Linked DNA regions of Homo sapiens. The protein of the gene in region 1 purifies or fractionates together with the protein of each later gene. This does not show direct contact. Each region holds a gene or a part of one and is shown in the gene's direction. Other genes may lie near its edges.

Region 1 (3,748 bases):
CTTCCCACACAGACTGGCCTCAGGAAGGGAAGGAGGAGGTAGGCCGCTCTGACAGCCACAACCCGAGTTGAGGAAACAAGCAAAGGAACACAGAGAGTCTACATACAGTAAAAGGTGACAGGAGTTAAGCTGCACACAAGGGAAGCAGAGATGGGTTGGAGGCAGTTAAGGGTGCGTTGCTGCCTCTGTGGCTGAGGTGAGTGCAAAGCCCTACATGGTCCCCTGTTTAGAGAAGGCTATTGTTTCAAACATATTTTACTTGGTCCCCGGAGGCAGCATGAAACTATGAAAGAAAGAGCCTTACCCCTTTTTTCAAGGCTCTCCAGACCACAGTTCTGGGATGGGTGTGGGTGGTTGCCATTCGTTCATTTATGCCTGTCTGATATGGAGCCTCCCTCTGTTACCAGCCCTGTGCACTCAAGTGCCTTGCAGTCCAGTGAGGAATAACTGTAGATAAGATGAGATGATGGGCATTAAGTGTAACTGCTGAGAAGCCTTCATAGAGGGAAAGGTGATAAGAACTGAGTTTTTCTGGCATGAGGAGTTTACCAGGCAGGAGAGGTGGAGACGCTAGGCTAGGCAAATAGGCTGCAGCCATAGTTCTGCTGAGAAACAGGTTTTGAACCAAGGCAACTCCATCTGGAGATATGTATCAGAAAGATTAGGAGATAGAATCTCCATCTTGGTCACTTATTTGGTCTTCTAAGACAGCAATGGGACCGTCTCTTAAATACTGGAGTTGTCCTATCTCCTTGGGCTGATACCCTGAACTGTCATTTGGGTGAGTAACACATTAAGGGGTAGACGGTCGGTTTGGGGGAATAAACTAAGTAACTAGGTTGCGGTTCCTCCTGCCGACTAAGCAGACCTCCTGGTGCGTGGTCTTGGGTTGCCCTGTGAGCCCTGAAGCTGTGAATGGGCCCCACAGATCACTCTAAAGCCAAGCATCCATGTGTGCCCGGCTGGGGATCTAGACCCCCCTGGTCTACCCAGGAACCTGAGTTTTGGTGGTCTGAGACACCTGGGGGACGACGTATCCCGGAGAAGGGACCAGGATTAAAGGCCGCTCCCCAGGCTGCCCGGAGACTAGAAGGAAGGCGAGGTAGCCGCAGTCCCAGGGAGGGTCTTACCCCTTGCTCCCGGGATGCGTTATGGCGGGCCTGGCTGTGCGAGATCTAGGCTAGTGGCTTTGGCTGCGAACGGATTAGATCTGATCCGATTAGAGCCTGGGCGGTCGGCTTCGCCCCCTTGCCAGGCTCTGCCAACGCCCGCCCCTCCCTCGTGGAGACCCGGAGACCTCCCTGAGAGCCTTCCCGCCCGGAACACGGGATTGGTGCAGAATCCGAGAGGCTCCATGCGCCCCGGGCCTGGCTTGTTTCCACAGTGGGGGCTCGTGCTTCCGCCCCCTGCGGCTCTTCTGGACCCCGCCCCGACCCTGCGGGTAACTGGGCCCGCGACGTCCCCGCCTCCGTGCTTGCCGCGTGGCGGGTGGGTTCCTCCGGGTCGGGGCCCCGTGCCGCCTGTTCACCTGGGGCGGGACCGTGGCCCCATCCCACAGGTCTCCCGCCCGTGCACCTGCCGCCTAACGCCGCGCGCCGCGCCGTGCGCCTGCCTCGCGCTCCCCGTCCGCCTGCCCCGCACTCCCCGTCCGTGTGTCTCCTAGTCCCCAGCGAGGGGTCTGTCTGTTCCCCTGGCAGGCTGACCAAGGGGCCGGCGTCACCGCTACGTGCGGCGGGGCCGGCGCGGCGGGCGGGGTGAGGGCGGCGCTGAGCGCAGCGGCGGCAGCGGCGGCGCGGGAGGCGGGGAGGCGCGGCGCGCCGGGGACAGCGGCGGACGGCGGCGGCGGCGGCATGCGGCTCCTCGCGCTGCCCATCGTGGGCTGAGGCGGCCGCAGAACCGGCGGGAGGCGCGGCGGCCGGGCGAGCCGAGGGCGCAGCCAGCCGGGCGGACCGCGGACAGCGGTCGGGGCGCCGCGCCATGGGGCGAGCCGGGGGCGGGGGCCCGGGCCGGGGGCCGCCGCCACTGCTGCTGTTTCTGGGGGCCGCGCTGGTCCTGGCCTCTGGGGCCGTGCCGGGTAGGTATGACTGCGCCCGGGACCCCCGCGGCCCTCGTGCCCCACCCAGGGCAGGGGTCCCGCTGGCGGCGGGGACAGGTGGAGCTGTGAGCTGTGGCAAGGGGGCGGGGCACCGCCTGGCCGCGGCCGGGCGGCGGAATGGTCCCAGGAGGTGGTGGGGGTCCGGGAAAGGCCGACCCGCGTGGGGGCCGACCCCGGTTGGGGTAGCCGGGACCCAAGCGCGCGGGCCGCGGTGCGGACTGGGGGCGGGGCCGGGGGCGGGGCCGGGGCGGGGCCGGGGCGGGGCCTGAGGGTGAGACTTCGGGGCGGGACCTGGAGCTGAGGGCGGGAGCCAGTGGACGCGGCTCAGGGTGGGTTCCCGAGGGTGAGACTTATGGGTGGGCCGAGCTGGGGGCCGCCCTGGCCTGGCTCTTCAGACGGCGGGGCAGGTCGGGCGGGGCCGAGCCGCGAGGCGTTGGGCGGGGTGTGATCCTCGTCTTGGGGGCAGACTCCGGGACGGGGCTTAGAGGTACCGGGTGGCTGGGGTCACACTGGGGCGGTGGGGTCTGAGGGTGGCGAGGTCTGGGTTGACCAGGTCTAGGCGAGCGGGCCTGACCGGGGCGGGCCGGGGCTCCAGGGCTCCTCAGCGCGCCGCCCTGACGTCCCGCCCCTTGCCCTCCCGCCCGCAGCGCGTGAGGCGGGCAGCGCGGTTGAGGCCGAAGAGCTGGTGAAGGGCAGCCCGGCGTGGGAGCCGCCTGCCAACGACACGCGGGAAGAAGCCGGCCCACCAGCGGCTGGGGAAGATGAGGCGTCGTGGACGGCGCCCGGTGGCGAGCTGGCCGGGCCAGAAGAGGTGCTGCAGGAGTCGGCTGCGGTGACCGGCACCGCCTGGCTGGAAGCTGACAGCCCAGGCCTGGGAGGAGTGACCGCAGAGGCGGGCAGCGGCGATGCCCAGGCCCTTCCAGCTACGCTCCAGGCTCCCCACGAGGTCCTCGGGCAGTCAATCATGCCCCCTGCCATTCCTGAGGCTACAGAGGCCAGCGGGCCACCCTCCCCCACCCCCGGCGACAAGCTGAGCCCAGCTTCTGAACTCCCCAAGGAGAGCCCCTTGGAGGTTTGGCTGAACCTGGGGGGCAGCACACCCGACCCTCAAGGGCCAGAGCTGACTTACCCATTTCAGGGCACCCTGGAGCCCCAACCGGCATCAGATATCATTGACATCGACTACTTCGAAGGACTGGATGGTGAGGGTCGTGGCGCAGATCTGGGGAGCTTCCCAGGGTCACCAGGAACCTCAGAGAACCACCCTGATACTGAGGGAGAGACCCCTTCCTGGAGCCTGCTTGACTTATACGATGATTTCACCCCCTTCGATGAATCTGATTTCTACCCCACCACATCCTTTTATGATGACTTGGATGAAGAGGAGGAGGAAGAGGAGGATGACAAAGATGCAGTAGGAGGTGGAGACCTAGAAGATGAAAATGAGCTTCTAGTGCCCACTGGGAAGCCTGGTCTGGGGCCCGGGACAGGCCAGCCCACCAGTCGGTGGCATGCTGTCCCTCCACAGCACACTCTGGGGTCGGTCCCCGGCAGCAGCATCGCCCTCAGGCCCCGCCCAGGAGAGCCAGGCAGGGACTTGGCCTCCAGTGAAAATGGCACTGAGTGCCGCAGTGGCTTTGTGCGGCATAACGG
Region 2 (3,748 bases), on another chromosome or scaffold:
AATGCGCGCCCATGACATAGCCTGAGGAGGTGCTGAGGACATGTGCCTAAGGTGGGTGGAGCACAGCTTGATTTTATATTATATATTTTAGGGAGACATGAGACATCAATCAACATATGTAAGATGAACATTGTATTGGCCTGGAAAGGTGGGACAACTCAAAGCAAAGGCGGGACAAACTCGAAGCCAGGAAGGGGCTTCCAGGTCATAGGTGGGTAAGAGACAAATGGTGGCATTCTTCTAAGTTTCTGATTAGCCTTCCAAAGGAGGCAATCAGATATGCATTTATCTCAGTGAGAAGAAGGATGAGAGGCAGGTTTGCCCTAAGCAGTTCCCAGCTTGACTTTTCCCTTTAGCTTAATGATTTTGGGGCCCCAAGATTTCTTTTCCTTTCACCAGCTATTACATACCCAAGAGATGTTTAGCAAGGAGTTGAATACATATGCCTGTAGTTCCCAGAAGGATCAGAGTCTGAATGATATACAGTTGAATACATATGCCTGTAGTTCCCAGAAAGATCAGAGTCTGAATGATATACAGTTGAATACATATGCCTGTAGTTCCCAGAAAGATGAGAGCCTGATGATATGAAGAGAAAGGTGGCGGGAGATGGGGGGCGGGGGGCAGTAAAGCATCCTGGAGATGCCGATGTCCGGAAGTAAAGGAGGACCAGCCAAGAAGTTTGAGAAGAATCAGCTACTGTAGGACAGAAAAAAAAGCGAGCTGCCCAGACAGCAAGATAGTAAAGTGTTTCAAGGGTGTGGTAGAATGGGGCTAGGAGTCATGCTAGATGCATTGAGAAGAAACAATTGGGATTTATCTTGCTGGTCGCTGGTGTCCTTGAGAGGGCTATTCAGTGGAGGGGTGGGGAAGGGGACTAATTGGGGTTAATTAAGTTGAAAAGGTGAGGTAAGATAGTGGCAACTATTTCCTTGAGACTTAGTCTCTCTCTATAGCCCAGATTGGAGTGCAGTGGAATGATCTCGGTTCACTGCAACCTCCGCCTCCCGGGTTCAAGCGATTCTCCTGCCTCAGCCTCCTGAGTAGCTGGGACTACAGGCGCCTGCCACCACGCCTGGCTAATTTTTGTATTTTTAGTAGAGACGGGGTTTCACTATGTTGGTCAGGCTGGTCACAAACTCCTGACCTCAAGTGATCCGCCTGCCTTGGCCTCCCTGTTTTGCTAGGATTACAGGCGTGAGCCACCGCACCTGCAACTATTTTCATTTGACTGATGGGGCAGTGCACATTTTGGTTTGCATTTGTATTTACGAATGTTTGAGAGAAAAAACTCAAATATCTTACAAGCCTATGTGTCTGGTTCCATTTTGAAGTACTGACCTAGGATCTCTGTACCTACTGAATTTTTTTTGAGAGATAACATACACCTGAAAGTGCATAAAGTGCACTGTCTTAAAATGTACAGCTTGATCCTTCTTTAAAAAAAATCATATACGTACGCCCATGTAACTACTGTTCATATCTAGATGTTGAACACCTCCAACACATCCAACATAACCATAATGTTCCTCTGCACCTTCCCTGTCTATAATCTCTCAGAAGTAAACCAATATTCCGACTCCTATAAAATCCATTAGCTTTACTACATGTTTCAAAGAAAACAAATGAGAACTCTGAAGGACATTTAATTGGAAAACTGCTTTAGCACATTATAAACTTACCAATTTGCTTGTAAACGCTAACCATTTGGCGCCAAAATCCTGGGAGGGTCTTTTAAACCGTTCTTCCTCAAAGCACCGCCCCACTTTTTACACCACGCCTCCTTTTGCTCTGTTCCTTCCCCCACAATATTGGGACACCCTAGGCGGTAGAAGCAGCCGCTTTTCTGTCATGCGCATTGCGGAGAGTCGTTCTTCCCTCTTTCCCGACTTCACCACTCACTGGGATCAGACCCCTGTCATGCGCATTGAGAGTCCTCTAGACAGGCGCTCCTCGCAGCACCGTAGTGCGCTTGCGCTGAGCAGCCCGCGAGGGCGGAAGTGGGAGCTGCGACCGCGCTCCCTGTGAGGTGGGCAAGCGGCGAAATGGCGCCCTCCGGGAGTCTTGCAGTTCCCCTGGCAGTCCTGGTGCTGTTGCTTTGGGGTGCTCCCTGGACGCACGGGCGGCGGAGCAACGTTCGCGTCATCACGGACGAGAACTGGAGAGAACTGCTGGAAGGAGACTGGATGATAGAATTGTGAGTGCGGGGCGGCCAGGGTCCTACGTCCGTGCCTGGACACACGACTTCACCCCGCACGTTCCTCGTGCGGGTCGCAGGCTCCCCAGGACTGCGCCTCCGAGTTGCGGAGCGAGCGTCCCCGACTTCTGCAGCTCCCCAAACTCTTGGGATCTGCCGCCAGCTTGGTCCCACCCCCTCGTCTCTTACCCGTGAATGTTAAGTTTCTTCTGGGGTGCACCCTCGTTTCGTTTCTTGGGTTGTGGTGCGCCCAAAGGGTTAGTGCCAATGCGAATTCTGACATTTTTCATGACTTTGAGGATGCGACTGGGGCGCGGGGAGGGAGGTGTCCGACTCGTGTCTAAGTAGTTAAAGTGATTCTTCACAGACTTCTACACTTATTTTCACCACATTTTACATAAGAGAATATTGAGCAAAATTTCTCCTCTCGTTTTGTCTGTCCTTAAAAGATAGTCTCTTTATGGTGTTGGAATTTGGCGCTTTTAAGCTTTTTTTAATGGATTGGGTACGTTTCTTTTTTATTGTAAATACTGAGTCAATTCAAGTTGGGTTATTTTTAAGTTTTCGTTTTCTCTTTTTGCCTCCTCTTTTGCTTTCTCTTTTTTTCACTCCTCATCTCATTTTTCCTTTGGGTGTCTTTGTAGTGTAGAGAATACCTTGGGTTGTGACTCCTAGGTCTTTGTAAATGGTATTACATTAAAAGATAATGTATTAATGTATACACTCTCAAGAGCGCCAGGTCATCATTTATTGCTCGAACGAAATCATGTATTTTGTGTGGTGATTTCAATTTAATAATATCTGTTCTGCCGCGGTGGGAAATAAAGTATCTGTCTTTGCTTTAGATGCTAAGTCGTTGTTGATGGTGGTATTATACATATTAGCAGTATTTACTGATAATAGTAAAAGCATAATTATTAACAGTGTACTGGACACCACTAAGCACCTTTACACGAATACCATATTTAATTCCCTACAAATTCTCTATGACAGGTGTTTTTCACGTTTTACAAATGAGTAACAAGATACCTAAATACTTTAGTTAACCTATGCAGATATTGCTGTGCTGGCTTTCTTTGGGTCTTCAGAGTAGGCATACAATAATTGTTGTTAGAACACCTTCTTCTTTAAAAAGGTTCAGCTGGAAGTGGCGTACGCTACCCAGGAGATTGAGGTATGAGGATGACTTGAGCCCAGGGGTTCAAGAGATCCTGGGCAACTAGCAAAATAAATAAGTAAATAAATAAAAATGAAAAGACAACAGGGTTCAGGTGAGTGTTTTCTTGTGTCACGAATACAGCAAGGGTTGTCAAGTTAAGGAGGCCAGTGAAAGTGACATCCCCAAGGGAGAACCCAGAAGGCTAAATCAGTAAGTCCTGTGTTATTTTTTAAAAAAACAAAACTGGCCGGCGCGGTGGCTCACGCCTGTAATCCCAGCACTTTGGGAGGCCGAGGCCGGTGGATCACGAGGTGAGGAGATCGAGACCATCCTGGCTAACACGGTGAAACGCCGTTTGTACTAAAAATACAAAAAATTACCTGGGCGTGGTG
Region 3 (3,748 bases), on another chromosome or scaffold:
GCTGAGGCAGGTGGATCACTTGAGGTCAGGAGTTCGAGACCAACCTGGCCAACATGGTGAAACCCTGTCTCTACTAAAAATCCAAAATTTAGCCAGGTGTGGTGGCGGGTGCCTATAATTCCAGCTCCGTGGGAGGCTTAGGCAGGAGAATCTCTTGAACCTGGGAAGTGGAGGTTGCAGTGAGCTGAGATCGTGACACTGCACTCTAGCCCGGGTGACAGAGACACCATCTCAAAAAATAAAAAATGCTTTTAGTCTAGAACCACTTTAACCCCCTTGTTGTATGTGGGTCTGAAGCTCTGGGCAGCCCTAGCCCCCACTCCTGACTCTGCCCCTAACTCATACCACTCTGCTACATTCCATGTGAGTTGAATGCATGTTCATAGTTATTTTAGGTGTAGCAAAACTACATCTCATTTTAACCTTCTCATTTAAAACTCGTTAAAATTTGTACATAGGCTTTTCATCTCTTATTAGATCTTCCTTTTGCCCTATGCTATCATTAAAATGTGAAAGCAATTGGAAATACATGAAATATTTTGCTTTTATCCCCATGGCATTGTTGTAACATGGACTGTTGCCCCTTTTTAACTCTGCCCAATACTCTTCCATTGAGGCCGTACATACTGTGCATTTGTAGATTAACAGTTTCATTGTGGTTCAGGTACTTTAATGATTCCTACTTTTTCTAGAAATCTTTTTGTAGTTGACTTGAGTTGGTTGGCTGGCCAGTGATGGTACAGACTTTTTTCTCATGGATTTTCTATGATGTGTGGGAGGCACATCCTCTTGGCTGTAGAAGATGAAGAGGACAGAAATTTCCTTGGTCTACCTTCTTTGCAGCTAGAACATGATCAGTCAGATACTCCTACTCGTGATTTTGTCTCTGATTTGCCTATAGATTGTACATGAATACTATAGCCACCTTCATATGGCAGTGCCAGCAAAAGCAAGGAGATAGTAGTGACGGTATCAAGAGCAGCATCCCAGGTTGACTTTCTTTGGGGCAGGACCTTGCTTGTGTCTTAACCCTTGGTTCCTACCCAAGTTTGTCTCTCTAGTCCTCAACTCTGAAAGCCACTTGATATCTTACACAATTCCTTTTTTGCCTGAGAAAATAAAAGTCAGTTTTGATCATTTACAACCAAAAATCCTAACTAACACAGACCTGTTTTTGAAATCAGGTAGATTGGAAGTCTTGGTTTACTTCTTATAAGCCCGTCCGCTGTCTGTCTTGTAACATCCCAGGAGCAGACTTAACAAGGCCTTCCTGGAGCCTTGCTCTTTCTGTCTGCTTCCCTCATCTGCTCTCTCTCCTCTCTCTTCACAGGGTCCACTTCCTAACACATGCTGCCATTTCTGGCTTATGGTTTGGCAGCAGAAGACCAAAGCAGTTGTCATGCTGAACCGCATTGTGGAGAAAGAATCGGTGAGTAATATTTAATATTTACAACTTAGTATACTGTATGTGATCATTAGCATATAAAGATTTTCATTTTGGGGCCAATATTCATTCCTTAGTTTTGGCCTTTAATTGCTAAAGGCTAGCGGTCAAAGTGTTTCTGTCCGGAAAAACTCATGTATCCTTTTCCTTTCTTAAGTATTTTTATAACAATTGCAGACCTTTCATCTCCAAGATAGAAATACAATGGAATAAATATGGACTAGCAGTGACATATAGATCTTTGGAATCCCTAGGAATCCTTATTGACCTATTGTCAATAAGTCCTCTTCCAGCTTTAAGATCTTGTACTGTTCTACTTCAGATTTCTTACTTTATTCTACATTTCATAATTGCTGGTTTTTAATGATGATGAAAATTTCCTAATCCACTTCTAATTAGATGTGGCAATGACATGCCAGAATTTCCAGCAGTATCAGCATAGTCATTTACAGGGGTTTTTCCTGATCTTCAATATCATTTAAAAATTAAGGATTAGGCCAGGCACGGTGCCTCAAACCTGTAATCCCAGCACTTTGGGAGGCCGAGGCAGGCAGATCACTTGAGGTCAGGAGTTTGAGACCAGCCTGGCCAACATGGTGAAACCCCGTCTCTACTAAAAATACAAAATTAGCCAGGTGTAATGCTAGCTACTTGGGAGGCTGAGGCAGGAGAACCGCTTGAACCTAGGAGGTGGAGGTTGCAGTGAGCCGAGATTGTGCCACTGCACCTCAACCTGGATGATAGAATGAGACTCCATCTCAAAACCCACTGCACTGCAGCCTGGGCGGTAGAGTGAGACTCCATCTCAAAAAAGAAAAAAAAAAAAATCAAGGATTATGACATTGTCAGTTTGAGCACCATTGTAGACTACATGATTTGCAAATTTTATTTCTCTCATTTTGGAGTATAATTACTGTATTAATAAGATAACACTGCCACCAGAATTTAGAAATCATGTTTATGGTGGTTGAACCTAGATGGTTAACAAGAGTCAGGTTTAATTATTTTGGGGAAGATTACTTCAGAGGTGGTGGGTAATGTGTTATTCATCAAGAGACCCATAATGTCTGATTATTGTTCTTTTTATTTCATTAATAGCCATTATTGGTCAGTGTTCAGCTTCTTAATTCATTATGGGTTACAAATGATGATAATCCAATTCTGTCATTACTTCTCTTAAAAGCAGTTTTCCAAAAAAAAGTTGATTCCCTATTGAGGTCATCTGTTCTCAACAGATGACCAATTAGGAGTTTTTCTGGTGGAGAGTGGCAGGAGAGGTTGAATTATTATGGGTTTGGACATACTGGATTAATTTTACTCCTTTGCAGTTATTTTCCTTATTTTTGATCAAATTACCCTGTCATTGGCTAGCAGCAATGTCTTTAGGTTGGGTCCTGAGTCCTCTTTTTTTTTTTTTTTTTTTGGAGACAGAGTCTCGCCTGTTGCCCAGGCTGGAGTGCAGTGGCATGATTTCAGCTCACTGCAGCCTCCACTTCCCGGGTTCAAGAGATTCTCCCGTCTCAGCCTCCCGAGCAACTGGGATTACAAGCACCCACCACCATGCCCAGCTAGTTTTTGTAGAGATGGTTTTACCATGTTGGCCAGGCTGGTCTCAAGTTCCTGACCTCAAGTGATACGCCCACCTCGGCCTCCCAAAGTGCTGGGATTACAGGCGTGAGCCACCTCACCCAGCTCTGAGTCCTTTTTAACAAACCTTTAATAGTTTCCTTGGCTGGGTGCAGTGGCTCACACCTGTAATCTCAGCACTTTGGGGAGCTGAGTTGGGTGGATCGCTTGAGCCCAGGAGTTTGAGACCAGCCTGGGCAACATGGTGAAACTCTGTCTCTACAAAAAATACAAAAATTAGCTGGGTGTGGTGGCGCATGCCTGTAGTCCCAGCTACCTGGGGTACTGAGGCAGGAGGATCACTTGAGGCCAGGAAGTCAAGGCTACAGTTAGCTATGGTCGTGCCACTGCACTCCAGCCTGGGGACAGAGCGAGACCCTGTCTCAAAAAAAAAAAATTTTTTTTGCTGTCTGTAATGACTGCATCTCAGGCTCATCTCAAACTCTTGCTGCCCAGACCTGGAACCAGCCATTTCTCTAAGGAGTTTTGGTTTCTTTTAATGGGCAGCAGTATTTCAAGATCACAGCAAAAATAAGGATATATATTGCAACTGGACTGGTCATTGTTTTTAGGGCTTTTCAGTGGACAAAAGCTAAGGAACAATATGCATATGTTAAGATAACATACTTCAAGAGTTCATAATGATATTCCCAGTTCAAATTTGGAACTATAAGTGTT

The links.
Region 2: the proteins of CSPG5 (region 1) and TMX1 purify together in Homo sapiens (affinity purification with mass spectrometry; 2 studies listed by BioGRID and IntAct, with this or other methods). This does not show direct contact.
Region 3: the proteins of CSPG5 (region 1) and PTPN2 purify together in Homo sapiens (affinity purification with mass spectrometry; 2 studies listed by BioGRID and IntAct, with this or other methods). This does not show direct contact.

The regions. Positions count from the first base shown.
Region 1 is NC_000003.12:47,576,923-47,580,670, reverse strand, and holds the start of CSPG5 (chondroitin sulfate proteoglycan 5 isoform 1 precursor), read left to right. Parts: upstream 1-1,805; 5' UTR 1,806-1,977; coding exon 1,978-2,074; intron 2,075-2,431; exon of another isoform or gene 2,432-2,582; intron 2,583-2,742; coding exon 2,743-3,748. UniProt on the Homo sapiens protein: May function as a growth and differentiation factor involved in neuritogenesis. May induce ERBB3 activation.
Region 2 is NC_000014.9:51,238,248-51,241,995, forward strand, and holds the start of TMX1 (thioredoxin-related transmembrane protein 1 precursor), read left to right. Parts: upstream 1-1,999; 5' UTR 2,000-2,045; coding exon 2,046-2,197; intron 2,198-3,748. UniProt on the Homo sapiens protein: Thiredoxin domain-containing protein that participates in various redox reactions through the reversible oxidation of its active center dithiol to a disulfide and catalyze dithiol-disulfide exchange reactions.
Region 3 is NC_000018.10:12,828,624-12,832,371, reverse strand, and holds part of PTPN2 (tyrosine-protein phosphatase non-receptor type 2), read left to right. Parts: intron 1-1,330; coding exon 1,331-1,429; intron 1,430-3,748. UniProt on the Homo sapiens protein: Non-receptor type tyrosine-specific phosphatase that dephosphorylates receptor protein tyrosine kinases including INSR, EGFR, CSF1R, PDGFR.